7 linked regions of the Homo sapiens genome follow. The protein of the gene in region 2 purifies or fractionates together with the protein of the main gene of each other region. This does not show direct contact. Each region holds a gene or a part of one and is shown on either strand. Other genes may lie near its edges. The genes, in order: TMEM154, STRA6, GPR89A, CMKLR1, MTMR1, CCR9 and TRDN.

Region 1 (3,500 bases), on a different chromosome or scaffold from region 2:
CCCACCCCCACCTGTAGGCAGGTTTTAGGATAATACTCACATGTCTGTAAAGCACTCTGAGATCCTTGGCTAGAAGGTTCTGTATCAAAGCAAAGAATATTTTGTTTTATTGATTGTTCACTAACACATGAAGCAATTTTCTGGAAATGGAAATACACCAAATATTTACCTTGTTTAGTTCTTTTTCTTTTATAGTATGTTGCAAGGAATACCACGGATAAAAGTAAGAGGACCAATAAAATCAATGGGATTAACACCATCAGTATAAACTCTAACTGATTTTCATCCGGAGCAAAGTTGGTAGAATTTATATTTGCATTTAATGTTTCTTTGATGGTCACTGCAGCAAATGTGCTTGGAATAGTCACTTTATTTGGTCTTTCAGATTCCACAGTTGTATCTCCTGAGTTTTCTAATTCCTCATAATTACCTGTGGGAATAGATACAAAATTGAAATTTCCATGGAGACAAAGTTAGTATGTTATATTGTCAATGATTTTTAAATTATTCCTAGATACATTCTGTGATAAATTTGACCCACTATACTTGGCCTCCAAGCTAAGTGTGACACAGAACATTGATTTAACATAAATGAAGCTCAAGCTGGGAGTGTATTGAATATGGAATCAGAGCTCAGAGAAAAACCTTGCACAAAGGTAGGCAGTTTTGCATTGACCAGACATTTTAGATACGCTTAAGCAAAGTGGATTCGGAAGCTTCCTCATGTTAAGGGTGATTTTCCAAGCCAAGTAATGTGATATTACAGGACATCTCCTATAGGGTATGATAATATTTTAACAAAATGTCTGAATAAATTTAAATTCACATTTACTAAAATTAAGTACATGCCATACAGCACTTTTAGATGTAAAGAAATGCACTCTGTGTCCTAATTTTTTTTTTTTTTTTTGAGGCAGAGTCTTGCTCCATTGCCCAGGCTGGAGCGTAGTGGCATGATCTCAGCTCACTGCAACCTCCACCTCCTGGGTTCAAGCAATTCTCGTGCCTCAGCCTCCAGAGTAGCTGGGATTACAGGCATGTGCCACCATACCCAGCTAATTTTTGTATTTTTAGTAGAGACAGGGTTTCACCATGTTGGCCAGGCTGGTCTCGAACTCCATGCCTCAAGTGATCCACCCGCCTCAGCCTACCAAAGTGCTAGAATTGCAGGTGTGAGCCACTGCGCCTGTCTGTGTCCTAATATTTAAATAAAAGGTTACCTATCAATGGAAAATAATTCTTTGAAAATGAATTGACTGTGCCGGGCATGGTGGTTCACGCCTGTAATCCCAGCACTATGGGAGGCTGAGGTGGGCAGATCACCTGAGGTCAGGAGTTCGAGACCAGCCTGACCAACATGGTGAAACCCTGTCTTTACTAAAAATACAAAAATTAGCTGGGCGTGGTGGTGCATGCCTATAATCCCAGCTACTTGGGAGGCTGAGGCAAGAGAATTGCTTGAACCCAGGAAGCAGAGGTTGCAGTCAGCCAAGATCGCGCCATTGCACTTCAGCCTAGGCAACAAGAGCGACACTCCATCTCAAAAAAAAAAGAAAAAGAAAAAAGAAAAGGAAAATAAAAACCATCAGGATGAGAAAGGACTACTGACTTGATGACTATCTGAAAAACTTTTCCTTACCTGTCTAAGCAGTAGTCATGGTAAGATAAGCTGAAGGTCTTTGTCCTAATATCGTATAATGTTGTCTACCTTTCAGAAGGGGCCAACTGAGGAAAATACCTCGTAAGTTGATGCTACAGAAAACTTATCAAATGAGATAATTTACAAGAAAGTTATTCTAAGGTGAAAGGAACTATGCAAATACAGAAGTCAGCTGCTTTAAACCACACTCTGCGGTATAGGTTAGGCAATTACTTTACAGAATGATCAAACTGGACATTGCAGAGCCAATTCAATAGTTCATCTATCTTCATAATCCCATGACAATGGAGTCCTCTGATTTTGGTTGAAACAATAAAAATGTTTGGTCACTGCTATGAATTGAATGTTTGCATTCCCCTCAAATTCATATATTGAAGCCCTAATCCTCAATGTGATGGATTAGGGCTAAGAGGTGAGGCCTTTGAGAGGTCATTAGGTTTAGATGAGGTCATGAGAGTGGGGACCCTATGACAGGATTATTGCTCCTATGAGAAGATAAGAAAACCAGAGTTCTCTTTCCTTGCCATATGTGGATACGGAAAGGTGGTGACTGCAGGCCAGGGAGAGAGTTCTCACCAAATACTAAATCTTCTAGCACCTTTGATCTTGAACTTCCCAGCCTCCAGAACTGTGAGAAATAAATGTCTGTTGTTTTAAGTCTTGCAGTCTGTGGTATTTTGTTATGGTATCTGAGCTAAGACAGTAAGAATCTAATTGTGTTGATTGTATGAATAAATACTTTCAGTCTCCCACATCAGGGAATTCATTTGATAATCCCTTTAGTAAATGCAACCCCAAACCATCAGAATCAATTACAAACTACAGAGTAAACTCACTGGTGTTTCTCATGTGTATATGCCAAAGGCAGGATTGAAAAAAAAAACTACCAATGTTTGAAGAGTGGAGGGGCTTCAAAATGGCTGACTAGATGCATCTGGCAGTCACCTCTTCACAAAAAATAACAAAAATACTGAGTAGATAAGCTACATTTTGAATTGATCATTTAAGGGAGAACACAGGAATTCAACAGAGTAGTAATAGACAACACTTAAAGCACGGAAGGAGAGGGAAATAAGGCATCCTTCTTGGCTGAGACTGGCTGGGAGCCAGGAGAAGCTCCCCAATGTGGGGAAAGGGTAGTGGTCCATATTTCCACTGCAGACTCCTGCAGCCTAGCCACGGGAGAGCCCCTCAACTCTCACAGGCCCTGAGACTAACACTGAGAGCGCCTGTACACTGTGCAATGGCATTGCTCCAGAGAGGGACCTTATGCGGAGTCCCACACACCCCTGAGCCCTAGTGGCTGCAGCACAGTGCCACTTTGAGGGCCCAGCCCCCACCAGACTGTATCCTGCCCTAGGGCCCAACAGCCCCTGAATCTCCATGTCTCTGGAGCTCCTGCCTGCAGCCACCAGCGCTGCTGGCTGCTGCTGCCAGGGCCAAGGTAGGAGCCGCTGGCAGCACCCCTCCCCCCACCCCTGGCCAGCAGCGGGGCGCTCACACATGTTTATGTGCCTCAAGGACAAACTCCACTGTCCTCAGCTATTGCTGCTATAAACTGCTGCTGCTAGGGCCAAAGCATGAGCAAAGCATAGCCCCAGCTGGCTGCCTATGGTTGCTCCCACTGAAAGCAATCCCATCCTCTGCAGTAGCAGGCAGCAGTGTAGTCACTGCTGCCTTCACCTGAGCTTTCTATCAGCAGCCTGGGGATTGCTTCACCCCTACCTATTACAGCCAGCTACTGCATGCCCCACCAGAGAGTCAAAGAACAGGTCTGCACAGGCCAGCTCTCTCCCAGTGCAGTACTTGAGTGTGCCATTTGGGGCCTGGTGATTGCCCA
Region 2 (3,500 bases):
CAAAGGGGAAAGAAGAACAGACTCAGGAGAAAGTCTTAAGACATAGAGGCCAAAGGGCGTGGCTTCTCTTCAGACAGGGCAGGGGAAGGAAAGGCTTGATGGGAGGCACCTGGCCAGCCAGCAGGTAGGTGGTGGTGCCAGCTGCTGGCCCAGGGAAGGTGGAGGGAGGAGCAGGTGCTCCTGGGATGATGCTTGGTCCTGAGGGTGTACTGCTCAAAGTCTGGAGCTCAGCAGAGGGGCTGGGACCGGGTGTTAACTCGGCAAGGTCAGACTGAATCCAGAGAGTGAGTGAGATCCCTAGGCAGGATGGAGAACCCCGGGTCCCTTTTGGGCTACTCTGGTCCGAGAAGGCCCACGGACTCCAGACTCGGCTCCCACGTGGCAGGCAGGGAGTTCTGAGCGCTTGTAGCTCCTGCCTATTGAGGCCAACACCCCTCGAGGAAGCCTGTGTCCCCTCCTGTTTACAGCTGGCTCTGAAAAGGGAGCGGCCCCCCGGGACGACACAGTGCCTGAGGCATGCCCCTTTACCTTCTCTTCCAGGGTTTCCACCACCCCATCTCTCTCTCCATTGCCAGCCTTTCCTCCCAGGCTTGAGAGGTGTACAATCCTCTTTGGACTTTGGTCAAAGAGGTTTAAGTCTCAAAGGACCCCCATCAAGCTTTGAGCTGACCCACTCCTGCCCGGGATCCCAGGGTTGTCATGGCAACAAGTGACAACAGCCTGTGTTCTCCCAGTGATTCCAGGCAGGGGCTCACCCCATCTTCCCATGGGCCTCTGCTACTTCACAGGCAGCTTAAGGCCTGGAATGTGGCTTAGACAAATCTGGTCACCCTTGTGATCTCCCTTGCGCAGTGGCAGCAGGAGAAGCCTGAGGGTGTCTGACCTGGAATGACCCTCTTCTGTGTCCTGGTCTAGGATGTGCCCGTGGGACACAAGCTTCCCTTTGCCCCAGTTTCAGCTAGCAGAGGCCAGAGGGCTAGGGGTGGGAAGAAACGGTGAAGAGATGTGACTGAGTAAAGCAGGCGAGAGTTGGAGACAGATCTTAGGAAGAACTTCCTGGCATTGATGGTTCTTTGATAGGAGACTGGCCTTGTATTTGTGAGAGAGAAAAGGGAAGCTTTGGAGGGCACGGACCTCATCCCCACAGGTCAGCCCCATCCACACTCACCACCACCGCCATGGCCAACAGGTTTTTATGGAGCACCTGCTTGGTGAACACTCTAGTTCCCTGAGCCAGGGACCCACGAATGGGTCGAGGCAGATCTCATCTGCTTGTTCAATTGTCTGTCTCCACAGGGGCTGCAGAGCAGCTACTCTGAGGAATATCTGAGGAACCTCCTTTGCAGGAAGAAGCTGGGAAGCAGGTGGGGTCTCTGACACACCCTTTGTGGGCCAATGGATTGGGCTGGTTAGCAGCCGTGCTTGGGAAGCTGGCACTGGGCAGCATGGCAGGGGCAGAGGGGAAGAATGACCAGCCTCTGGGGCTGGCCCTCAGGGAATGGGCTTCCCCTGAGGACCCCGCACCTGCCTGGGTCTTTCTGCAGCTACCACACCTCCAAGCATGGCTTCCTGTCCTGGGCCCGCGTCTGCTTGAGACACTGCATCTACACTCCACAGCCAGGTATGGGGTTGGGAGCTGAGGCCGAGCGTGACAGGGGACGTTACCCTCCCTTGCACAGAATGGCTGCAGTGGAGGACTGGCTCCTGCTCCCCAGAATCCTTGTCATCAAGAGGGACAACTACCAGCTTGGGACAGCGGGAAGACCCTGGCCTGGCCTTGGTCATTTAGGGTCCTGCTGGCCCTTTTCCTGGGCCCCTTGGGAGGGAGGAGGGCTCCCGGGCCTGAGTGGTGCTGTTCACCATACTCCTTCCTTTGAGGACTACAGGATTCCATCTCCCGCTGAAGCTGGTGCTTTCAGCTACACTGACAGGGACGGCCATTTACCAGGTATGTCCCTCACCCTGTACTGCCATCTGCCTCTGGAGCCCTGCCCTCAACCCCCAAGCCTGGAGCAGTTCCGGCCCAACCCAGCTCTCCAGGTGCTCCATCCAGAACCCTGACCAGGTGCTGCAGGCCATCTTGGGAGTTCTGGCCTACCCAGAAGGGCCGGGGTGTTCACTCTTGGACTCATGAAGTGACTCGGAGCATTAATTTTGGAGGCCACATAAACACGAATTTAAATCCTAGCTCCACTATTTACCTCCTGTGTGGCCTTGGGCAAGTTATATAACCTCTCTGAACCTGTTAGCTCATCTGTAAAAAGGAGAAAATAGAATAATTTTCCTCTTTGAGTAATTGGGAAGATTTAGCAAGACAACATGTTTGATAAACTCTGCCTCACCACCTCCGAAAAAAAAAAAACCCCGAAAAAACCAACAACAACAATTAAAATCCTGGGAGATGGGTATGATTATTCTCCACTTTACAGATGGGGAGAATGGAAGCTTGGAGAGGTGAATTTGACTTGGCCAAGTTTCTGCACAGCTAATATCTCAGCGTAGCCTAAGTTTGAATCCAAGTCTGTCCAGCTTTAATTCCTGTGCTCATTTACTTTCACAACATAGAAAAACCAGAAATTTTACATTCCAAAGTTTAGATAGATAGATGATGGGTAAATAGATAGAGGTGCAGACACAGTCATCCCTCAGTATCTGAGGTGGGTTGGTTCCAGGAACACCCCTCCATACCAAAATCCAAAGGCTCAAATTTCTGATATACGATGGTGTAGTATTTGCATATAGCCTACACACATTCTCCAGTATACCTCGTTATCTCTAAAGTACTTATAATATCGAACATAAGTGCTATGTAAACAGTTGTCCTATGTCTGGGTGTGGTGGCTCACACCTGTAATCCCAGCACTTTGGGAGGCTGAGGCGGGCGGATCACAATGTCAAGAGATTGAGACCATCCCAGCCAATGTAGTGAAACCCTGTCTCTACTAAAAATATAAAAATTAGCTGGCGGTGGTGGCGCGGGCCTGTAGTCCCAGCTACTCAGGAGGCTGAGGCAGGAGAATTGCTTGAACCTGGGAGGTGGAGGTTGCAGTGAGCCGAGATCGCGCCACTGCACTCCAGCCTGGCCACAGAGCAAGACTCCATCTCAAAAAAAAAAAAAAAAGAAGAAGTTGTCCTACTGTATTATTTTTTATTTGTATTATTTGTATTGAATTGTTATTTTTTATTGAGGGTTTTTCCCCAAATATTTTTGATCTGCGCTTGATTGAATTGGTTGGTTGTGGATGTGGAACCCACAGATACGCAGGGCTGACTATATGAAGTTACGGTGCTCGAAGGCATGCCTTTGGCCTATTAGGCTGTGATTGCACCTGTCTGTAATGTCCTCATTTAGAGGCGTGAGATCCCTGCTCTAAGGGGCAGATAAGAACACTGATGGGCAATGGGCATGTGGCTGGGGCCTGTGTGCTGCCAGTTTCTTCCCCAGCGTCTCCCCTGTTAGCACAGAAAACCCTTTCCTGGGATGGGGCCCTCACTGTGGG
Region 3 (3,500 bases), on a different chromosome or scaffold from region 2:
AGACTCTGGAGCTAGACTGCACTTGAATCCTGACTCTGCCCCTTTTATCTGTGTGGCCTTAACTAAGTTACTTAACCTCTCTGTGCCTCCATTTCTTCATCTGTAAAATTAGGTTTTCAATAATATCTACCTCATAGGATTGTTATGAGGGTTAAATGAATTAGAACATGTGAAATGCTTAGAACAGTGCCTAGTCATAGCAGGTGCTTGGTGAATATTACCTATTGCCATTACAATTACTAGTGAAAGTAATTTCATTCAATAAAGAAGAATGGGAAGAAAGCTGGATTGCAGTCAGTTAAGGAATGAACTGGAGGTGAAGAAAAGGTGACAATAACTATAAACTTCTTTTAAGAAGCCTGGCTATTAAGGAGGAAATAGATGGGGGTTGGTAACTAGACGTAAACTCGAAGCCAAGAACAGAATTTCTCTTAGAAAAGAGAATTGAAACTAAAGAGAAAGAACTAGCAAAGAAGGAAATATTGAATATACAAGAGAGAGGAGACAGATGATGGAACAAGACTCTGAAAGAGGTGGAAGGGATTGAATACAATCAAAAGTATGGTGACTGCTAGTTCCAAGATGGTGGCGTAGGGGCAAGCTGGCTTTGCTTACCCCCCTGGCAGAAAACCAAAAACAAATAGCACCAAGATTATCACTAGCAATATCCCAGAACTCACATATAAGGATGAGACAGTTCCCAGGGCCCAGAGAAGATCAGAAGCACAAGTGGAGAAGTCAGCTTTGGATGCTACTTTGTTCTAAGGGAGACAAGTTGGGAGGATGATTGCAGATGTATATTCAATGTTATAAAACAGCCCATAAAACAAAGATTGGAAAATGTTGAATTTTGCAACCAGGAGAAAATTCATGACCATAGTGTAGAGTGAAGGTAGTTTATGGCTAATAGCTATGTCTTTTATAATAAGGACATTGGCAAAGGAGAAGGACAAAGGTAGGAAAAATAAAGAGTAACTGCCGAAGACAATGGAGAGAGATGGCTGACCAAGGGCAAGATAAGGATTAGTCAATAGTGTGAGAGCTCTCTTAGGACTGGAGACCATACATTTGTAATGGCTCCAAAATCAGTACGCATTCTAGCAATTTGAGGCAGCAAAACATGGGCACAGGGAAGGCAGAGTGTTAGACTGATCCAGAGTTGGGAATTTGTAGGATTAGCGCTTCAGAAGGAAGATAGTAGGAGATTGAGGCTCCTGGTGAGAGAATTTGAAGCCAGCAAGCCTGGAGTCCAAGCTAGGTGAAGAATGGAGAAGCAGAAGACCAGAGGTTGCACTGACCTCTAAAACGAGTGTAGTGGAAATAGAAAGACTAGGAATGGAGGCCAGTAGTCAGAAAAGGAATATTGGAATTTTCAGTTTTGAAGCTGACAGAATTCCTGAATTATAGCTCTGGCATTTGACCATAGGAGTGGATGGCTGTAGTGAATTCTATCCTAGAAATAGAAAGTGAAAACCAGTTAAAACCATTCTTTTTCTGCAATGCCAAACTTACTGAGTTATTCTTCAGCATTGCTTTCTCTCATTTATCCCAAATACATCAACCAGCAGTATTTATTTTAACTGCTAAGTTGATTTTCAGCATTCTCACGTGATATGAAACAATTGATAATTAGGATACAATTTATAATCCGAAACTGATGTGTTTGCCTTTGAATTACTCATTCATCTATAAGTTTAGTCCTTTTATTAGATGAATTCTGTGTTTATTGGATGCAAAAAAGAATAAGACAAAAGCAAAAGAGTATCACCTTAGGGGAAATACATATATATCAAAGATAATTAGCACAAAGTAGTTCCTGCTATTTATACTTTTCCAGCAGATTTACTTTCTTAGTTTTTTTTTTTTTGGCCGATGCTTTTACTAAAAGTACTTTGCTTTGTTAGCATTCATGCTACCAAGAGTAAACAGTCAATGATTGTTATTTATAATTATTGTTGTTATTATTTTACTGCTATCACCCAATAAAAGAGATCACTCTGAAGCATATGGGACAGGAGGAAAATCAGTAAACTTTTAGTATATTTATTATAAATCATCTACACATTAATAATTAAAAGTTGGCTTGTATGAGTTAGTTATGTGTAATGGTTAATGTTTTAAATAATGTTTCCTTTTGCAGTACAGATGAGAGCCATTTTGTCTATATTACCTGGCATTAATGTGCCTTGATGTTTTTAGGGATCTTATCCATAGAACAGCTCATCAGCCGGGTTGGTGTGATTGGAGTGACTCTCATGGCTCTTCTTTCTGGATTTGGTGCTGTCAACTGCCCATACACTTACATGTCTTACTTCCTCAGGTAACAGAGCGCTTTGCATCCTTTCTTTTTTGCCCCATTACTTCTTGAATACATATGTCATATTATGCCACCATCTTTAAGATTATATATTAGATCTATGACACTGTCTTTTTATTCTTCTCTTCCTCTGTCCCTGTGGGCATTGACCTGGAAATCTTTCTAAATAAGTATTATCACTTGTACGGCTTGCCTTTATTATTTGTCCTACATTCATTTATTTTTTAAATGGCAAATTTCAATCTGACACTCCCCTCCCACTTTTTTAAAGGCACATTTCTAGTGACCAGCAGTATAAACCAACTCCAACTTCAGCAGTTCAGCTCCCCTCCTAGATATTAACAGAACAGTAGAAGACAATGCCAAGTTAAAAGTGTGCTTAAACATACATCCTAAATGTCACTGAGCTGAGATCATGCCACTGCACTCCAGCCTCGGCGACAGAGCTAGACTCTTTCATAAATAAATGACGGGTTGATGGGTGCAGCAAACCATCATGGCACGTGTATACCTATGTAACAAACCTGCATGTTCTACACATGTATCCGAGAACTTAAAGTATAATAAAAAATAAAATAAAAATATTTAAATATATATTTTATATATATATATAAATGTAACTGGATCAAAGCTAAGAAAAACTGTAAGAGAGCTGGGTGAATTCCATTTCCCTGAGATCCCAGAGGATTAGCTATAAGAAATGAGAGCAAAGGCATTTTAGTTTATTATGGTCATTTTACTATTTTCTAGAAAAAAGTAGTAGGTAACAGTTGAAGTCTATGTTTGTCTCCAGATACCCTGTATCATGCCCAAGAGTGGGACCCCAAAACATTTTGCTAGCAGTTTGTGCTTTTTGTAGGAATGTGACTGACACGGATATTCTAGCCCTGGAACGGCGACTGCTGCAAACCATGGATATGATCATAAGCAAAAAGAAAAGGTAAGATATCAACACTGTAATACATTTGGACTCTTACAATTTCTCAACAAGAAAATTTGACTGTGAATTGGTGCTGGCAGGGAATTTTATCTTATTCATTTTTACTATAAGGTAAAGTACCAGATTTAGTGTTGGCTGGACACAGTGGCTCACACCTGTGATCCCAGCACTTTGGGAGGCCACGACGGGGGGATCATTTGAGCCCAGAAGTTCGAGACTAGCCTGGGTAACATAGTGAGACCC
Region 4 (3,500 bases), on a different chromosome or scaffold from region 2:
GACAGGATGTATTAGTCAGGGTTCTCTTAGAGGGTTCTCTTACGGTTCACTCTCTACATATAAAAAGGGGGAGCTTATTAAGTATTAATTTACATGATCACAAGGTCACACAATAGGCCATCTGCAAGGAGAATCAGTCTGAGTCCCAAAACTGGAGAACTTGGAATCCGATGTTCGAGGGCAAGAAGCATCCAGCATGGTAGAAAGATGTAGGCTGGGAGGCTAGGCCGGTCTCTCCTTTTCAGGTTTTTCTGCCTGCTTTATAGTCTCTGGAAGCTAATTAGATTGTGCCCACCGGAGTAAGGGTGGATCTGCCTTCCCCAGCCCACTGACTCAAATGTTAATCTCTTTTGGCAACACCCACACAGACACATGCAGGATTAATACTTATTATATTTTAATCCAATCAAGTTGACACTCAGTATTAACCATCACACAGGGTCTCACCACATTGCCCAAGCTGGTCTTGAACTCCTGGACTCAAGTGATTCACCTGCCTTGGCCTCCCAAAGTGCTAGGATTGCAGGCATGAGCCACCGCATGTTTTTGCGGTGAGCCCGGCCACCTATTGTTTTTGTGAGCATGTGCAAGTCACATACATATAACCTCTTTAGGCCTCAGTTTCCTCCTGCCCAGGGTTGTTGAGAGAGTGTCTGCCATGTTCTTTGGCCTGGAGTAGGTGCTCAGTAAATGACTTGGGGTGGGGAATAAGGGCAGGGGACACTCAAATGCCCATCCTTTGTTACCTGAATTGGTTTGAACAGTTATCAGAATCTATGAATTCCTGAGTGTTATATGAAGTAAGAATTCAGGTAGCAAGTGTATATGTTTCCTGTTACTGCTATAACAATAACCATAAACCGAATGGCTTAAAACAACACAAACTTATTATCTTATTAGTTCTGGAGGTCAGAAGTCCCAAATGGGTTTCACTGGGCTAAAATCAAAGATTGCATCTCTTCCGGAGGCCCTAGGGGAGAATCTGTTTGCCCTCCTTTTCCAGCTTCTAGAGGCTGCCACATTCCTTGACTCATGGTCCCCTTCCCCAGCCTTCAAAGCCAGCAACCGCAGGTTGAGTCCTCGTCACATCAAATCACTTTGACTCTCCTGCCTCTCTGTCTCATTTTTAAAGACGCTGAGCTCACCTGGGTAATCCAGCATAATCCCACCATCTCAAGATTCCTAATGACGTCTGCAAAGTGTCTTTTGCCATGTAGGATGACATATTTACAGGTTCTGGGGATTAGGATGTGGACATCTTTGGGGATCTGTTATTCTGTCTAACAGTGACATTGGTCTGCATCTGATTGTTTCTTGAATTTCGAATTTAGATATTGGGAGTTCAGGTGGCCATCTATTGACAGTTGGTTCAGCAGAGTATTGACCAATTAGAATGGATGCAAGTGTAGCAACCAGTGAGGCTTTACCAGGGAGTATTCAGTGATTATCAGGACCGAACCAGGAACCAGACTTTGGCATCATTTAGACTGCGTTCACGTCCCTGCACTTATGAACCTGCTGACTCTGAACGAGGGGGTTCTCCCATCTGTGAAATGGGGATGGCGGCATGTTGTACATAGGGTAGTAGTTAGGATGGAAGGAGATAGTAAGAGTTAAGTGTCTGGCACCTGGTAGGAGGCTCAACAGGAATGAATGATCCCCCAGGAGTTTAACTTCCCAGCTTGAGTCTCTCCATCCCAGGTACTGGTGATTTCTAGTTATGAGAACCTTTCTGTCTCTGCCCCATGCTAGGGAGACATGCTTGTCTGGCTCATGGGCTGCAAGGAGCACAAGGGCTCCTTCTCTTCCCCCCTGTAAGAGAGGAGGTTCATTTTTGAGGATGTGGATGCTAACTAGGAGGGGAGAAGGTGCCAGCTGCCCAGCCAGCCTTGTGTTTGACCTGGAAGGCTCTTGGGATATGTGTTGGCTTGAGGGCTGGATTATCTTTGTCCCCTAGGCTGCAGGAGCCTGCAGCCCCCATTCAGCTGTTCTACTATCAATGGGGCTCAGTGTCTCCTATGTCTACCTCCTTCTGCTCCCAGTCCTGCTACCAACTGCTCTACTTTATTTCCAAGTCACTGTTTATATGCCCCAAGAGGGGCTACCTCATTGGTTCATGTAATCCTTCCAGGGTCCCCACTGGATCCCTGCTGGGGTTCTCTCTGATGGTGGATGGATTCCCTCTGAATCTGGAACTTGCATTTCTAGAAGGTCCCAGAAGAATCACGAATTGGCATTGAATTGAATTGGCACTGACCTTGACATGATCTAGTCCAGGGATGGAAGTCCACACCCCTCACCATGTGCTGTGGCAGACATCACACATCAGTCATGACTTTTCCTCTAGTTGAACCCAGATGTCTTTGTCATTTATCTTTGTGGATCAAACACCCCCAAATTTAGTGGCTTGAACTGACTTATTCATTTATAATTATGCAACTTAGCAGAGTTCTGCAGGGACAGTGCATCTCTGCTCCACATAGTGTTGGCTGCGTTACTCATGGGCTGCATTCAGCTGGGAGCTTGACTGGGGCTGGGATATATAAGATGATCTCACATCCTGGAACTTGTGTGCTCTGTTTCTCTCTTTCTCTCTCTCTGTAGCCCATCTCTCCAGCAGAACTGCTTGGATTTTTCTACCAGGAGGCTCAGGGCTCTGCAACAATGATAGCAGAAGCTGATGGCATCTAGAGATCTAGGCTGGGACTAGCACAGCATCACTTCTACCACTTTCTGTTGGTCACAGCAACTCACCATGCCAGTGCAGATTCAAGGGGAGGAGAAATAGAGTCCACTTCTTGATGGGAGGCGTGACATGTGAGTATTGGGGCAGGGTGGGATGTTAGAGTCTATCTTTAAAGACAATCTACCATCTTCATCTTAAAACAACGAATGACAGTGGCCATCTGAGATAATCATTTGTCACCCTAAGTTAGACTACACTCCCATTTTTCAGATGGGAAAACTGAAACTCAAAAAGGATTTGTTTAAAGGAGCCTCTGTTCACTTCACAAGCATTTACTGAGCACTAACTGTGTGCTAGGAGCATGGGATACAGGGAGCTCCTGTTGAGTGGGAGACAGGTGAGTAAACAGACAGAGTGGAGGCCCATCTAGCCAGAAGGTTGGCTTTAATGTTGGTTGCTTGGGGCAAATTTTGCTCACAGGTCACAGTCACCCATGATGATTCCATTCATCATCCATTCAGAACAGTAAGTGACTACTGGGCCATTTTTACCAAGTGCTTATTGTTAAATACCCTCCCACTTATGCCTGCTTGATACATTTAGTGTGCAAAGTACTGCAGGAGTGAAGTGGAGGTAGCTTTCACTGGGGAAGCCAGGAAATAGTGCTTCGAGAAGGAAGCATATATTCGAGCTGGGTTCAAAGGGTGAATTGGCCTTCAGTTGCTTATAGGAGCAGTTGGCTAGACATGAGAGAGATTTTAGGCAGGGAGAGCTGCATGAACACAGATCCAGAGACTTGATGAGTGCAGGGAGT
Region 5 (3,500 bases), on a different chromosome or scaffold from region 2:
CAGTACAAATTATTCTACTGTCCAAAGACCATGAAGAGACTGAGGGAGAAAAAGTTCAGAGCTGATTGCCCTCTTTTAGTTTTCACTTGGCGTTTCTATTATACCTTGCACACTATCTCTATACCACAGGAATTGTCTCCATGGCTCTGTGCTCCAATCTTCTCCACTCTGCTGATCACTCCAAGGGGAACATCAAGGATAAAATGCGGGTCCTAGGTTCAAAAATTAAGATCAATGCCTATTAGTGTCAGTCAACAGTTTTCATATTTTAAGTCTTTGCTGGGTTACAAAACATGTTTGTTTACTTCGCATTTCCTCTTTGTCCCAGCTAAATTGAAGTCTGATTGACAGCATTCCTTGTGAAATATATATTGAGACAACAATGGAATTTCCCCTCCAGGTTTAAGCGGTACTTTAACAGCCTTTGTTTTCAAGATACAAACATCTGTTTGCAAATGTGTGCATCTCAAAATCCAACCTGTGGTTATCTCAGGGTAATGGGATTTCAGGGGACTTTTTACTTTCTTCTTTTAGTGTTCTTTTAAAAGTGTTTCTTTTAAAATAAAACACACTTTAAAAAACTCACCCTCTCGACATTTTTGAAGTACAGCTTAAAGTCCGTCACTGTCAGGGTTCCACTCACTGCTCCCATAAATGGGCAGATATACATGACATCTTTCACTGAAAGAAAAAGGCCAAAGTAGCAACTACTGCCATAGACTTGTGCTTCCATAAAACTTAACACGAGTTTTCCAAATATATATTTGTGATTCCAGTTTTCCAGGAATTTTGTATTTTATAGGATTATATCAATTATGACTTTCAATATAGAGAGATGCATAGTCTTCTAATAAATTTCAATTTTTTAAAACAAAATTCTGATTTGCTACTTAATGAGGTTTTAAGTAAAGGGCCTCATAAGAAGTTATATTCTGTCATTTTTCCTAGGTAGTTAACATTTTCCCTGGGTGATAAATTAATCATATTCAAAACATTAATTAAACTCTGAAAACCCTGGGCTACTGTTTCATGAATTACTGCTACTTAAAACTAATGAAAACTAAAGATTGTCTCCTAATGCATCTCCAAAGGAAACTCTTTTTACAGAAGACAAAACCTAGAACCACATCAATGAAATGGAAAAAGACTTATTTCAAATTCCTTATCCCCTTATCAGTTTTAATTTTTTGTCAATATCTATTAAGTGCGTGACATATTTAATTCCCATTAGTGTTAAGAAGCTCACTTCTATCACAAAGATACCACATCTTCATGTTTTCCCAAAGTGCCATTCCACTGGAATGACAAGAATATACATAGCTATATATGAGTCCAAGTGAGACAACAAAAGGCATTAACGTCATTGAACCAAATTCTCAGAATACTTCCATTGAACTTTTCTATACTCCTTATGTACTGAGAGCCTTCTATTGCTGGGATTCTGGGTATAATTGGAAGAAGTTCCTGTCCATGAGCAGCCCATGACCTGTGAGAGATACCACACAGAAAAATCGCCATTATACTAGAGCAGAGGTCCCCAACCTTTTCGGCACCAGGGACTGGTTTCATGGAAGACAACTGTTCCATGGACCAGGGCAGAGGTAGGGGGATGGTTTCAGGATGAAACTGTTTCACCTCAGATTATCAGGCATTAGACCCTCATAAGGAACATACAACCTAGATTCCTCACATGCGCAATTCACAACAGGGTTCACGCTCCTGTGAGAATCTAATGCCACCGCTGATCCGACAGGAGACGGAGCTCAGGCGATAATGCTCACTAGCCCGCTGCTCACCTCCTGCTGTGCAGCCCCGTTCCTAACAGGCCATGGACCAGTGCTGATCCACGGCCCATGGGTTGGGGATCCCTGCACTAGAGGTTGACAAAAGCTAAAATAACAATGTGGACACAAAGTATTACAATGGAAGTTCAGAAAAGGATCAACTTAACTCAATAGGAAAGTGGGTAGGGGGAGTAAGAGAAGGAAGGGAGGAAGGGCACAGTGATAAGTTGTTAGAGGTTAGTATGCCTGGATCAATGGGTGCAGTGAGGACAGTCGAATATGAGGCCAGAGAAGTTGGCAGGGAGTGGATTGGCAAGTGCTTCTGTAGGAGACTAAGGCATTATTATCATTATCCTTAAAAGATAACTGTTTAAACAAAAACAAAAACAATATATTGTGGGGTTTATAACATATGTAAAAGTAAAATGGATGACAACAACAGCATAAAGGGTAGGAGGGGACAAATGGGAGTATACTACTATAAGGTTCTTATCCTGTACATGAAGCAGCATACAATCATTTGAAGGTAGACATAAAGATGTAAAATAACTAGTTACATAACAAAACAAACAATTATAGCTAATATGCAATCACAGGACATAAAATAGAATTCTAAAAAGTAAAAACCCCATAGTCTCGACCCAAAAGCTCCTTCAGCTGATAAACAACTTTGATAAAGTTTCAGGATACAAAATCAGCATACAAAAATCACTAGCATTCCTATACACTAACAACAGCCAGGCCAACAGCCAAATCAGGAATGCAATCCCATTCACAATAGCCACAAAAAGAATAAAATACCTAGGAATATGGCTACCCAGGGAGGTGAAAGATCTGTACAATGAGAATTACAAAATACTGCTCGAAGAAATTAGAGATGACATAAACAAATGGAAACACATTCCATGCTCATGGATAGGAACAATCAATATCGTGAAAATGGCCATACTGCCCAAAGCAATTTATAGATTCAATGCCATTCCTATCAAACTACCAATGACATTCCCAGAACTAGAAAAAAACTATTTAAAAATTCATATGGAACCAAAAAGAATAGCCAAGGCAATCCTAAGCAAAAAGAACAAAGCTGGAGGCATCATGTTACCAGACTTCAAACTATACTACAGGCCCACAGTAACCAAAACAGCATGGTACTGGTACAAAAACAGACACACATAGACAAGTGGAACAGAATAGAGCGCCCAGAAATAAGGGTGCACACCTACAACCCTCTGATCTTCAACAAAAGCAAGCAATAGGGAAAGAATTCCTTATTCAACAAATGGTGCTGGGATAATTAGCTAGCTATATGCAGATGACTGAAACTGGATCCCTTCCTTACACCATATACAAAAATCAATTCAAGATGGATTAGAGACCTAAATGTATAACCCAAATCTGTAAAAACCCTGGAAGACAACCTAGGCAGTACCATTCTGGACATAGGAACTGGCAAAGATTTCATGATAAAGATGCCAAAAGCAATCACAATAAAAGCAAAAGTTGACAAATGGAATCTAATGAAACTAAAGAGCTTCCGCACAGCAAAAGAAACTATCAACAAAGTAAACAGCCTACAGAATGGGAGAAAATATTTGCAAACTATGCATCTGACAAAGGTCTAATATCCAGCATCTATAAGGAATTTAACAAATTTACAAGAAAAAACACAAACAACCCCATTAAAAAGTGGGCAAAGGACAAGAATAGATACTT
Region 6 (4,109 bases), on a different chromosome or scaffold from region 2:
CTAGCTTTCTATAAAGGTTTCTCTTTATTTTTTTTTTTAAAGGTAATATATAAACACAAGCCAGGCAAGATGGCTCATGCCTGTAATTCCAACACTTTGGGAGGCTGAGGTGGGAGCATCACTTGAGGCCAGGAATTTGAGATCAGCCTGGGCAACAGAGCAAGACCCCATCTCTACAAAAAATTTAAAAATATGCCAGGCATGGTTGCCTACCCTGTAGTCCCAGCTACTCAGCTGGCTGACGCAGGACAATCGCTTGAACCCAGGAGTTCAAGGCTGAAGTGAGCTAACATTGCACTGCTGCACTGCAGCCTGAGTGACAGAGCAAGACCCTGTCTCTAAAATAAATAAACAAATAGTATATATCATGTAATATATTATGGTGTATAATAGAATGTAATATATTACAGTTTATAAAATATGCATCTGCTTCTGGCTCATAGAAAATTTGGAGAGAGCCAAAGAGTAAAAACAGGACATACCCCTCCCTAGAGCCCACATCTAGAACCTCCACAGACAGCCTTGCCATCTATTTCTCTTTCATTTTTGTCAGAATACTTCTCAAATATTTTATTCTCCCAGCTACTAAGTCTCAGTGCTTGCTTTCATTTTTGTCTTGCCAGTGAGAAAGCGGGAAAAATATAGGGGGGAAAATCCCACATATGACCAAACATACTGAGAGTGAGGACCATCTCAGCGGTCTGTCGGGAGTGGATGGGCAGTTGACTCAGCACTGTGGCAAATCTCTCCCTTGCTGCTCAGTGAGGCCTTGTTGCAGGTGCCATGGGCCATCCATCGAACCCACTTATTCAATGTGCCTTGAGTACCTGATACATTTATTTGGCTTAAACAATGTGTAAGACATGATCCATGTCCTCAAGAAGCTTGCATTCAAATACACTGAGTAAGTCATGGCTGCAAATAACAACAAAGGGAAAGTGCTATGAGTTGTGGTAGGAATTGGAAGAAGGAGGTCATGTCTTTAGCTCTGGGGAGAATCCAGGAGGGCTTCATTGAAGAGGTGACATTTTTGCGGGTCCTTGAAGGCCGAAGAGCATGGAGACATGCAACGAGGGGAGGGAACATTGCTCCAGGGTGGGAAAACATATGCACTAAGGCATGAAAGTCAGAAAGCATGGGGTATGTGCAGGGACCTGGGAGATAAAGGAAGGGAGAGAGCTGCTAATTCTCCAAAAGAGAAAAGTGCCTATTAGAAAAGTTAGCTTGGAACCTATTATTATCCAATCACTATTTTTGTATTCTCTAACATTCTTACGTAGCCAACATGAAAATCAGCATGGGGTTATTGTGCACACAGCATCTCCCCACACTTATAGCCTCTGATGCTTACAGCACTAACATCAAATCAGATACTAACATGAGTCAGGAATGCAGGTCCTTACTTTGAACTTTGTACAATTTGCTACACGGAGCTTGAATCATCTCTTACATTTTTTCATAGCTCTGCTTTTTGTTCCCTACACGAGGCAGGGTCTCTGAGCCATCTATCAGATCCATCCACTCACCATGCCTGGATCAGATGCCTGCCAACCGCCCAGCAGGGGCTGCACAGGGCCCAGGGGCTCCCAACACAAGCCTGTGAGTGAGGCCTACACAAAGAGGCTTCAGAACAGATAAGCAGATATTGGAAGAAAAGGACTCCGAAATTCCAGATGCTGAAATAGTAAATTAGCTTTTGCTCGTTCAGGAAAGGGAGTAAGGAGATGGGATCCCACAGACTGGCTGCTGCACAGCCCTTCCGGTTCAGCACACAGTGACCACTCTCTGGATGGACTTGCCAGCCGTCTATGGAGTAACAGCTAATTCAGAACTAAAGAGGGTAGGTGTGTTTGAAAAGGCAAACCAGCATCCACTGATGAGTCATTTAAAATAACTTTTTGCTTTACTCTGATCATAAAGGAGTATTTTTACAATGCACAAAAAATCCCCAAAATGCCAACATACATAATATAGAAAATAAAAACTCCTGAAGCACCCTTTCCTAGTTTAGCCATTGTTAAGTTTCTGAGATACTTCCTTTCTGACTTTTTCTCTGTAACACAACCTCACACACACACACACACACACACAGACACACACGCACTTAATAGAAAGGAAATCAGACTACACATATAATCTTCTATCTTGCTTTCTAATTGCCCATCTTTCATGGATCACCTTCCATGCCAATTCAACATAGAACCGTATCATAGAATTGGATGGCTGCTGTGTATTCCATTGTCTAGATACATCACAATTCATTTAACCATTCGCCTCCTGATGCATAGTTTCCTTGTTTCCAGTTTTTCACTGCTACAAAGAATCCTTTCCATGGGGCAGTGTCTCAGACTCAAGGACCTCATGGGTGTGTCCTTTACCCCTGGCCACCATCTTGTCCCCCAGCACCTGCTTCTCCTTCCTTTAAGGTATAAATCACAGACTGCCTTAAGCCTAAGCTTCATGTATGTGAAGGGGGAGGGAGTTTTATTACTCGCCCTACAAGAAACCTGGGTTGGGCATCACCAATTCCCATTTACCTTCCTGGAAGTTTCTAGAAAAGTGCCTGGTGCCCATGACCTCTGAACAAATGAGTGCAAGCCCAGGTTTTAGAAGCCATCATAGCAGCACACAACTGAGGGCCAAGATGACACTGGGTTGGGGGCAACAAGAAGAAGAGCAATACTCACTGTGGAGGGCGATGCAACTCTCCCTGGGACAGCAGGCACCACCAGCTCTCAGTGTCTGGGGAAAGAGCTGGGTTGCTCTCTGCCTGGGATGAGGGGCAGGCTTTGTGGGTTCTGAGCAGGCAGCTACCCGATAACAACACGAGAAAGGAAGCCAGGCCACCCCTGCCTGTGTTGTCACTGGTGGGGTAGCCCAAGAGGGTGGGGAGTCACCTGTGTAGCTTCCAGCAATCAGCGGAGTCAATCATTTGCAACCAGAAACAAAAAGCTGAAAACTGCTGGGATAAGGGGAAACTGTCTCATCTGAAGACGCACATACAGACTGATGATCTAAGAGCAAATTCTCTTCCTAGACAGCACAGCTGCTTACAGGGAATGGGGAAATTGGAGGATCCCATCGAGAGAAGTCAGCCTTGTCAGGCTTGCCAGAGGTGCACACTGATGAGATTTCTTTAGGTGGTGTCACCTGAGCAGGCCTGTATCAGATTACCACCCAGTGGCAGATGTAGCACTATCCATCGCAACATACCTTTTCTGGCCTTGACAGACGTACCAGAACCCGGAGGGCTGTGCTATCCAACACAGTAGCTACTAGGCAGATGTGCCTATTTAAATTCAAATTAATTAAAATGCTAACTAGGGCCAGTGCAGTGGCTCACCTCTGTAGTCCCAGCACTCTGAGAGACTGAGGCGGGCAGATCACTAGGCAGAGCCTAGGAGTTCAAGAACAGCCTGGACAACATGGTGAAACCTCATCTCTACAAAACACACAAAAACAATTAGGCAGGCATGGTGGCCCATGCCTGTAGTCCCAGATACTCAGGGAAGCTGAGGTGGAAGGATCAGGAGGCAGAGGTTGTAGTGAGCCAAGATTGCACCACTGCACTCCACCCTGGGCAACAGACTGAGACCCTGTATCAAAAAAGAAAAATGTTTTAAGTGTTAACTAGTTTCTCAGTCATGCCAGGTACATTTCAAGTGCTCAATAGCCACATGCAGCTAGTGGCTATCCCAATGGACAATGCAGATACAGAACCTGTCCATCGTCGCCAACAGTGCTATTGAAAGGCACTGCTTTAGAAAGTCTGCCTGTGAGATGTAGCTAGGAACACATGGAGTGCTGGAAAGCCACAGACACCTTCAAATTGGGGCAAATCTAGTAAGGTTTTGCACATCAGATACATTAACAAAGATAATACAATAAATTGTATTAATTACAGGTGTTTTGGTAAAACTTTGAAAAAAGCTAAATATACAAAATATTGCATTTTTAATGAAGATCACAGACGAAGTCTTCCCATCCACTGCTACAGTGGGGACTTCAATCCTGATGTGATTAATGATTTCCTGTCATTGTTATGACAAAGATCCCTTTTATATATTTGTTCTGGGGGAAAATCATGACTACACTCTTGTGGATGTTAA
Region 7 (2,556 bases), on a different chromosome or scaffold from region 2:
TTTCTCATTATTTCGGTTCTTCCAAATTAGACATTTTTGTTCATATGGTAAAGCAATAAATTTTAAATCTGTATTTGCATTAAAGTCATTGCAGAACAGAATAAAGGAAGCAATTTTTGAAATAGGTATAACTGAAGTTTGTGTCACATAATGCTTTTAAAGTAAAGAGCTAGATATTTGTCTGAAGAAATGACGTCTCTTGATTCTCCAGTGCTTTTTGGATGTTTTTGTGCAGGAAATTACTAAAGTGCCCCTTACAATAGCAAATGCCTCCTACTCTGTATTAATAGGTGATTCATTAGACAGATACTGAATGCCTACTATGTTCCAAGTACTTCTTTGGATGCTGGAACTACTGCAGTAGATAAGACACTTATTATAATCCTTCATATAATAAGGTTGTGAGAAATATAGGGAAATAAGCAGAGTCTTATGATACTTTGAGTAATATTACAAAATCCATAAGAAAAAGAATTATAGGTCAATCTGGACATATTTTCATTTTATATAGCAACGCTTTCCCAATTATTAACCTACTGGTAATAATTTGTGGCTATGTCACATAAACATTTGAAATCTCATATATTTTAAATAACTATTAAAATATAATTCAATGAGACAGGTGAATTGTATCAATACCAGTTTCCTAGTTGGAATATTGTTCTATAGTTTTACAATATGTTACCATTGAAGGAAACTAGGTGAAGATATGTGGTATCTTTCTGTATTAACTCTTACAATTACATGTGAGTCTACAATTATTTCAAAGTAAAAATTTTAATTAAAAACAAAACGCAAATACTTTTAGTAAAATGGTGTCAAATATTCTAACCTCAGTTGGGGGATCTATTGCATCAAAATGATATTTGCTATCTTCGTCTTACAAGAAGGCAGTTCTATAGCCTGATATTCATGAGCCTTTAATTTAAGCTCTAATATTTGCAGTCATAATAATATTTTAATGAGTAGCTTATTCAACATCAATTAAATAAATGTGTCAAAACAGTGTCCACTTCTGATAAGCAGCTGGAAGGCAGCCTGTCATTGATGGGCCCTTCTACTTTTAGCAATGGATTTCCATTTCTCCTTGTGCAGGGCCGGCTTTACTACTGTCCCTCTTGTAGCCTGCCTAACCCCCAAGCTCCCATAACCTCCACAAACTTGAAGAGACGGAAGTTGTATTATTGCTTCGGTTTGAAGATAGAAGAAAAGAGAAATCATTCCAGATGAGATGCATTGGAAAAGATAACTAAATTCAAGATTCTTCAAACTATTGTCATCCCTGAAAACCCAGTGACCCATGGAAATGGAATCAGAATACTCCCTGGTTGCTTCTCCAGCTTCCTTTTTTCCTATCCTTTGCTTTATTCTACTTCATAAACCCCTAGTCTCATATGGATTTGGCCATCTTCTTTATCTCCCACACACCACTAGCTTTAACTATGATTTTTCTTTCCTGGCCTTCTGCAAAAATCTATGGCTGGTTGACAGAATGCAAATGGATAGGATAGAAAACACTGGAAGTTTGTAGGCACCCAAGATTGTGAGGAGATGCTAAACTCGCCATCTTTTACCAAAGCTGCTACCTGGGAGCACCGGCTTACTGAGTCCAGAGTCCTTACTTGCACCACACTCCCTTAACTTTCCTGTTTTGCTTTCTACTCAGAGCTGCTACCTGGCTGCTACCTTTGTTGCTCAAAGAGCAACCAAGCCACCTTAGGAAAGCTCTTGCCTCTAAAGTAAGGGCAAATAAAACTTCTAGATGTTGGCACCACCTCTCTGTGACATTATAAAACACACACACACAGTCTGTTGCTTTGCATATTGATAAGCTCATATTTTGAAACCTGTGACTATGTCTCTATGATTGCTATGCACATCAACAGATGTCTATATGATCAGAACTTTGACTTTCTCTGCCAGGCCATTTTTATTATCACTTATTAAAGGCTTATTACATACCAGGAAGAATTTTAAGAGCACATGTAACTCATGTAACTCATTTAACTGTCATAATATTTCTGTGCGGTTTTCGTTGTTTTGATGTTATACATAAAGACTCCAAGACACAGTGAAGTTTAGTAACTTGCCAACAGCTACGGAGGCTGCTGGCAGAATCTGTGACCTTATCTGCTGCACTGCACTGCCTCACTGTGCTTTTTTGCTCATGTTCTGCATGTTTTAACAAACTGTCATGCTCTGTTCCTTAGGTCCCATCAGTTTCTTCCAGTGTGTCTACTTGGATGGGTACAATGGCTATGGATTTCAGTTTCCTTTCACTCCTGCAGACCGCCCTGGAGAGAGCTCTGGTCAAGCAAATTCTCCAGGACAGAAGCAACAAGGACAGTAAACACACATGTATGACCCTTACAAGTGCTTTAAGATTTTAAAAATGTGATGTTTTGTCCACAGTAGTTCAGGCAATTAAGAATATGCAACCCAGAGAATTTCTGTGAAAACATTTTGCTCTTTGGCCTGGTGTGGACGGAAAGGGTGGCCAAATGGATTGAGTGATGAGCAGACATGTTTAAGGGTCTAAGTCTCAAGAATCTGTTA

Evidence for each region.
Region 1: the proteins of STRA6 (region 2) and TMEM154 purify together in Homo sapiens (co-immunoprecipitation; one large-scale study listed by IntAct). This does not show direct contact.
Region 3: the proteins of STRA6 (region 2) and GPR89A purify together in Homo sapiens (affinity purification with mass spectrometry, with the first as the bait; one large-scale study listed by BioGRID). This does not show direct contact.
Region 4: the proteins of STRA6 (region 2) and CMKLR1 purify together in Homo sapiens (co-immunoprecipitation; one large-scale study listed by IntAct). This does not show direct contact.
Region 5: the proteins of STRA6 (region 2) and MTMR1 purify together in Homo sapiens (affinity purification with mass spectrometry; one large-scale study listed by BioGRID and IntAct). This does not show direct contact.
Region 6: the proteins of STRA6 (region 2) and CCR9 purify together in Homo sapiens (co-immunoprecipitation; one large-scale study listed by IntAct). This does not show direct contact.
Region 7: the proteins of STRA6 (region 2) and TRDN purify together in Homo sapiens (co-immunoprecipitation; one large-scale study listed by IntAct). This does not show direct contact.

Annotation. Positions count from the first base shown.
Region 1 is NC_000004.12:152,652,498-152,655,997, forward strand, and holds part of TMEM154 (transmembrane protein 154 precursor), read right to left. Parts: intron 431-3,500; coding exon 170-430; intron 80-169; coding exon 41-79; intron 1-40.
Region 2 is NC_000015.10:74,189,288-74,192,787, reverse strand, and holds part of STRA6 (receptor for retinol uptake STRA6), read left to right. Parts: intron 1-1,296; coding exon 1,297-1,364; intron 1,365-1,544; coding exon 1,545-1,621; intron 1,622-1,886; coding exon 1,887-1,948; intron 1,949-3,500. UniProt on the Homo sapiens protein: Functions as a retinol transporter. Accepts all-trans retinol from the extracellular retinol-binding protein RBP4, facilitates retinol transport across the cell membrane, and then transfers retinol to the cytoplasmic retinol-binding protein RBP1.
Region 3 is NC_000001.11:145,628,488-145,631,987, forward strand, and holds part of GPR89A (Golgi pH regulator A), read left to right. Parts: intron 1-2,199; coding exon 2,200-2,320; intron 2,321-3,176; coding exon 3,177-3,257; intron 3,258-3,500. UniProt on the Homo sapiens protein: Voltage-gated channel that enables the transfer of anions such as iodide, chloride, bromide and fluoride which may function in counter-ion conductance and participates in Golgi acidification.
Region 4 is NC_000012.12:108,329,312-108,332,811, reverse strand, and holds part of CMKLR1 (chemerin-like receptor 1), read left to right. Parts: intron 1-2,604; 5' UTR 2,605-2,817; intron 2,818-3,500. UniProt on the Homo sapiens protein: Receptor for the chemoattractant adipokine chemerin/RARRES2 and for the omega-3 fatty acid derived molecule resolvin E1.
Region 5 is NC_000023.11:150,724,396-150,727,895, reverse strand, and holds part of MTMR1 (phosphatidylinositol-3-phosphate phosphatase MTMR1), read right to left. Parts: intron 682-3,500; coding exon 587-681; intron 213-586; coding exon 105-212; intron 1-104. UniProt on the Homo sapiens protein: Lipid phosphatase that specifically dephosphorylates the D-3 position of phosphatidylinositol 3-phosphate, generating phosphatidylinositol. Could also dephosphorylate phosphatidylinositol 3,5-bisphosphate to produce phosphatidylinositol 5-phosphate.
Region 6 is NC_000003.12:45,885,234-45,889,342, reverse strand, and holds the start of CCR9 (C-C chemokine receptor type 9), read right to left. Parts: upstream 2,801-4,109; 5' UTR 2,688-2,800; intron 1-2,687.
Region 7 is NC_000006.12:123,218,395-123,220,950, reverse strand, and holds part of TRDN (triadin), read left to right. Parts: intron 1-2,210; coding exon 2,211-2,350; 3' UTR 2,351-2,556. UniProt on the Homo sapiens protein: Contributes to the regulation of lumenal Ca2+ release via the sarcoplasmic reticulum calcium release channels RYR1 and RYR2, a key step in triggering skeletal and heart muscle contraction.